2 separate regions of the Homo sapiens genome follow, and region 2 is linked to region 1. A link means that fine-mapping ties the variant in region 1 to the expression of a gene that starts in the linked region. Tissue or cell type: sigmoid colon. Region 1 holds a variant in brackets; the other region holds the start of a gene. All regions are shown on one strand. Distances are from middle to middle.

Region 1 (2,839 bases):
TAGCTCAAAGATAAGCTTATCTGTAAACCTCAACTGTCCTTTTTAATTTTTATAATGTCTTCTTTTCCTCTGGAACGGAACTGGAAAAAGATTTCTGAGGACTCTTACAAGGAGAAAGGAAAAAAACAGGAAAAATAAATAGAAGAAAGAAAACATTAAAATAGTTGAGGCTGGGTTTTGTGTGTGTCTGGGGTTTGGGCTGGTGTGCCTGTTTTTTATTAGCTCTGCCCACAGCCCAGGGTTAACCTGGCAGCTCTCTGTGGAGTTGGCTGGCCTCTTTATTGCCACGTGCACCCACCAGCTGAGCCAAATCCCCGAATATGGAGCTATGGGTGTATAAAATCATACGTGGGTTTGGGGGCACTAGCCCTTTGCTCAAAGTAATGATGGATGCCTTAGCTTTGCAGTAATTTTAGTTGACTGGATCAGTTTTCATATGGAAATTTAATTTTCGATTTTCTTTGATTATTGCACTTAGGCATTTCAAAGGACACATTTATGTAAACCATTCTGAGTCTTTTCTAAGAAGCCAGCCCACAAACTTACCTTTTCTGTTATGGATAAAAGCAAAATCAGTTTTTTTTTTTTTTATTTAAAAACAACAGAGACATTGTAATTGTTTATATCAGTGTATTGTTTCTCCTAATTTTTATAATAATGTACTTATTGATCTCAATTATAAAGAAGTAACAATGGAGAGCTAACTCTATATATTTATATTGCGTTTTAAGGCAAAACAAACAAGCAAAAAACAGCAATCAAAAAACAGTCCATTTTACTAAGGCAAGAATCCTGGATTTATCAAAAGGAAGTAGGAGTTTCGACTCCCATCTCTACCGTATATGGCATTTCAGTTTTCTCACCTGCAAAATGGCAGCACTAGGTCTACTGTGGGGACTCAGTGAGAAAGGATGTCAAGCGTTGCGTACACGGCGAGGGCTCCGTATCTGCTACTACCTTTCTTTGACTTATCTGTACAAATTAATGATAGATTAAAGAATCCATCACTTAAACTTACTATGGTTCGTTGTCCTCCTCTGCTGTGCAGGTAATTTTTGCATCATCCAGTTTTAAAGTTTGTAAGCAGAGTTCTGTCCCATGGAGGGTACCTTTAAAAAATCAAACTGGACTGAGAAACACACCAGCAAGCAGACTCGTGCTCCAGTCTGGGCATAGCTCTTCAGC[C/A]CCCTTCTGAAAATATAAACACAAGCAGAAAACTCCCGCAGCCGCTGGAGCACTTGGATAAACACAGCAGCCCCCTCCCCGCCTCCCCTCCACCTCCCTCACCGCCTGTTTTTCCGGAAGTCTGTGAAGTTCAACAGTCTCTCCTTCAGACCTGCAGAGCAGGCAGGTTCTGCGTCCCACAGCTCCCTCCCCTGACCCTGGCCCCCGGGAGGCTAAATCTCCTCCCGGTGCAACACACTGGGGCCCTTCTGGGGTGAACTAAAGGGGACAAAGGAATTTCCCAAGCAGAAAGGACCCAAAGGTTACCTAAAGCAGCACGTCTCATCTTGGGGAGTCAGCTACTGTGAACTTGTCCGCAGGGATTTTTATAAAAGCGGTTTTATAAAATCCTTAAACTAGAAGGTGCTGGCTTCTCCTGCTGGGGGTTGGGGGTGTGCTGTCTGAGTTGTTTATCAGATGGTTTTGCCCTGGGTCAGCCATCGTTTTCACCCCATCCTTCTTGTGGTCAGTGACTGGGGTCAGGAGGTGTCTCTGGTTCTTGAGTAGTGTTTTTTCTCTTGTAAGTGAACTGGGTCCTATGAGGATTGAACCGGTGACCTCGCCTCCATTAGCACCAGGCTTTCATCACTGGAACTCACCAGCCCAGATGAACTAAACACACTCTGATGTGTGCTCTGCTGAGTTTGGAAAGCTGCTCTGTTTAAATTGCTGAGGGCCAGACCCCACGGCACACCTCAAGTTCACTCCCACACCCTCTTCTGCTGCGATTTGGGTAGCCTTGGAATTTTTATTGAATGTTCATTGTTAGGTGAAGCATGAAAAAAGAAACGCATGAGGCTATGTCCAGACATGGACGAAGAAGTGTACAAAGAGCAGCAAGTCCTTCCCCCAGCAGAGCTCAGGAGTAAAATGTAATGGGTCTGTGTGCTTTCTTCCTCTGATTTCAAAGAGCCTGCGGCTTGTAATGAGGCAAACCCTCAAAACCAGAGCATGCCCCATGCTAAAAGTATCAGGTCTTTTGATACCTGAGGGAATGAGTCCCCCCTTCTGCATGAGATGGGCTATATTATACACAGCTTGTTAAGTGTGTGACAGATCAGCTGGAGGGTAGACTTCTTGTGGGCTCCAGGCCTGCACATTGGCTAATAAACCAGCTCCATACACAAACAGCCTATTCCGGCACTCAGATGCCCTGGTTCATGTTTCAGCCTGCAGCCATTCTGAAGCCGACGTTTTCTGCAGGACGAGCAAGACCACGGCTGTGCATTTCCCTTCCAGACGCCAGCCTGCGCCAGATGTGGGGCCTTCATTTTCAGTGTAGCAAGGGTGTCTGCTGACCCCTCACCCCGTGTCTAATGAAAGATGGACTGTGCTGCGTTTTCTTATAGCAAATTCTATATTAGAAGACAGGAGATTTAAAAATTAATTCAAGATTAATTCAGGGATGACTGCACATGGAATTATTTGGCCAACTAATGAAAAATGAAATTTTCACTATAAAGAAGGAAAATTGTAGAAGTGTCCAATTTTAATCCCATTTCCCATAAAGAATTATCATGTCCCAAGACCTATCTTGGAACCCCAATTAATCACTGAAGCACCAGGCTTTCCCACACTGTCTGTGAGTGAGCACACATGAACCGTGATGCCATGT
Region 2 (2,721 bases), 150 kb before region 1:
GCGCCGGCCCGCACCTCGTCGTAGAGGCTCGCTCCCTCGGGGGACTCCGCCGAGCTGCTCAGCGTAGGGCTGGCGGGCACTTTGGCGACGTTGTAGCGTCTCAGCAGCTGCGACGGCTGCTGCCCCGGCGGCTGCAGGAGCTGCTGGTGCGGTGGTTCCTCGTCCTCCTCGTCCGGCTCCTGTTTGATCTGCAGCTGCAGCTCGTCGTCGTCGTCGTCGTCGTCGTCGTCCTCATCCAGAAACACGCACTTGACCGTCTTGCCCGCGCCGCCGCCGCCCGAGCCGCTCACGCGCAGGCTGCCCAGCACGTAGTCGTCGCCCGCGCCCCCGTAGTCCCCGGACTGGGCCGCCTTGCCCGCGCCCGCCTTGGCGCCCGCGGCCGCGGGGGCCTTGAGCTTGCCGCATTTCTTGCTGGAGCCCTTGGAGGTCTTGGCACCGCCCGCGCCTCCGCCCGCGCTCCCGCCGCCGCCGCCGGCCGCGCTCTTCTCTGGGCTCTGGCTGGCGCTGGGCTTGGCCGAGGGGTCCATTTTGGGCTTTTTCCGGGGCCGGTACTTGTAGTCGGGGTAGTCGGCCATGTGCTTGAGCCGCAGCCGCTCCGCCTCCCGGATGAACGGGATCTTCTCGCTGTCCTTCAGCATTTTCCAGCGCTTGCCCAGCCTCTTGGAGATCTCGGCGTTGTGCATGTCCGGAGACTGCTCCATGATCTTCCTGCGTTCGATCTTGGACCATACCATGAACGCGTTCATCGGCCGCTTGATGTGGCCCGACGCCGTCTTGCACCAGTCTGGGTCGCTCTCGTCCAGGGCCACCGGGCTGCAAGCCATGAATTCGCCCTCCTCCGTGTCCAGCGCCTCCCGGGGCAGGTTGCTCTCCGCTTCCAAGCTCTCCGCCTGCTGCACCATGATCCGCTGCAGGGCTGGACGCTCCAACCCGGGCCGCTGGGTCTCGTGCGGAGGTCCCCCTCCCCCTCCCACCCCTCCACCTTCCTGGGCAAGTTGCAAAGTCCTCGGCACCCCGCTTTCGCGGCTCCCCCCCTCCCCCCCGCCCCCCCTTCCAGGCTGCACACAGCGGCTGTGGTGGCTTCGGCGACGACGGCCGCCGGCGCGGTGGGAGCTGCGGTCGCGACAGGAGAGGCGGTGGCGACGGCGGTCGAGGCAGCCCGGGACCCCTCTCTCCGGCTCGTGGCTCCTACCGCAAGCGCCGGACCCCGAGCTCTCCCAGGCGCGCGCGCTCCTTCTGCAAAAAGTTGAGGTCTCTCTCTCAACTAGTTATCAGGGTGTCATATGGGTGACATCACTCCCCCAGCTAGCCAATGGCTGGGGGCCGGCTCCGCCCATCTTCCTTTATTAACTCGGAGGCCCCGCCCCTCCACCCCGCCCTCCGGGCTGCTTTGCAAAGATGGGGGTGGGGGGAGAGGAGGCATGTCTAGAAATATGTTATTTTTAAAAAATCCGCGTGTGTGCACAGATGCGCCTGTTCCCGGGATGCTCGGAAGCGGCGCGCGGCACCACGGGGAGCGGGCGGCCCGGGGCGAACCGGGATGGTTCGGGCGCCGGCGCTAACCGAGGACCGGGTCCCGGGAGAGGCCCCGCGCGCCTTTGTGCCCAGTCCCCGGGAGGCCCGACGGCGACAGCGGACGGCGCGCGCTCACTCCCCGGGTGCACACACTCGGGCACGCGCCCAGCCTGAGACGGCGGCCTCCGCCCGGCTCGCGGTCAGCCGCGCCCGGCCTGCCCCGGGGTGGGCGCAGCTGCTCCCCGGCGAGCCCCTCGCGGGGCTCGGCCGCTCCCCCGGGTCGCCGCCCCGAGCCCGCCCGGTAGCCCCGCGGCGGCCCTGGCCGACGGAAGGTGGCGCTTGAAGACAGCAACCTTCCCGGCACGTGGGCTCTGCTCTCCTTTTCCCTTTCTCCCTTTTTGTAAGGCAAAGAAATCAATTTAAAGCTCGAGAGGCGGTGAGCTCCCTCCCCCGTTTTGCATTTTTCTGTTTTGTCCTTTTTCTCCGTCTGTTTTCCCTCCTCGGTGGTGTTTGGGGACGCGGCTGTGCGGGTTGGGCTGCGCCGCGCCCCCGCGCGCCCCGCCCCGGGCGGGGGCCGGAGTAACGGTCTGCGGGGCCCTCGGGTTCAAGCTGGCCACTCCCAGGGCTGGCTCCGGAGCGGGCTCTGGGTCCCGCAGGCTCCAGCAAGCCCGCGCCCCGCCCGGCGTCCCTGCGAGGGGCCCGGCGCCCTCCTTCCCTTCTCCCTCTGCTCCCCGCCCCTCCTCTCCCCGCCCCGTCCTCTCCCCGCCCCTCCGCCGCTCCTTTCTCCTTCCCAGGCCTCCTCTTCCTCTTTGTCCTTCCCCCATCCTCGGTCGCCAGCGCTTCTCCGGCAGCCTCGTCCTGAAATCGTGCGATTGTGAGCTAGAAGCCTTCTGGGTCACTCATAAACCAAAGAGAAAATAAGGTGCACTCGAGTTTCCCGTCTAAATATTTTCCCTGGAGATGGAAAGGTGCGCTGGCGGCCGGGGAGCCGCGACCTGGGGCGCGCTGGGCCTCGCAGAGCAGCCGCGGACCCCGGCGATCGTGCCGTGTTCGTCTCCTTTGTGTTTCTTTATTGAGTCCCTACTACCTCTACGGATATTCTGGGGGCAATTAAAGAAAATCACCGCTTCATAGGTATGGTCTGTCGCCACCCTCGCCTTCTCCACACCCCCCAGCACTGGGTATCTGGGAACTTTGAGCAGTTCC

Which allele goes with the higher level. Positions count from the first base shown, and alleles are read on the strand shown. Sizes are in standard deviations (SD) of each study's normalised expression.
For the expression in sigmoid colon of the gene that starts at base 1,240 in region 2, allele A in region 1 goes with a higher level than allele C (small effect, 0.19 SD a copy in GTEx).

The links. PIP is the estimated chance that this variant, and not a neighbour inherited with it, causes the effect.
Region 2: it holds the start of SOX11, and the variant in region 1 is fine-mapped to the expression of SOX11 in sigmoid colon (GTEx, PIP above 0.99).

The regions. Positions count from the first base shown.
Region 1 is chr2:5,538,479-5,541,317 of GRCh38, reverse strand. It overlaps LOC107985842 (a long non-coding RNA gene), which reads right to left and starts at 1,218. Exons shown (of 4, transcript XR_001739261.2): 1 at 1,019-1,218. The variant C/A (reference allele first, on the strand shown) is at 1,186.
Region 2 is chr2:5,690,903-5,693,623 of GRCh38, reverse strand. It overlaps SOX11 (SRY-box transcription factor 11), which reads right to left and starts at 1,240. Exons shown (of 1, transcript NM_003108.4): 1 at 1-1,240. The coding sequence starts at 902. LINC01248 (long intergenic non-protein coding RNA 1248) reads left to right here and starts at 2,506. Exons shown (of 5, transcript NR_110580.1): 1 at 2,506-2,649. It overlaps LOC124908052 (a long non-coding RNA gene), which reads left to right and starts at 2,661. Exons shown (of 2, transcript XR_007088653.1): 1 at 2,661-2,721.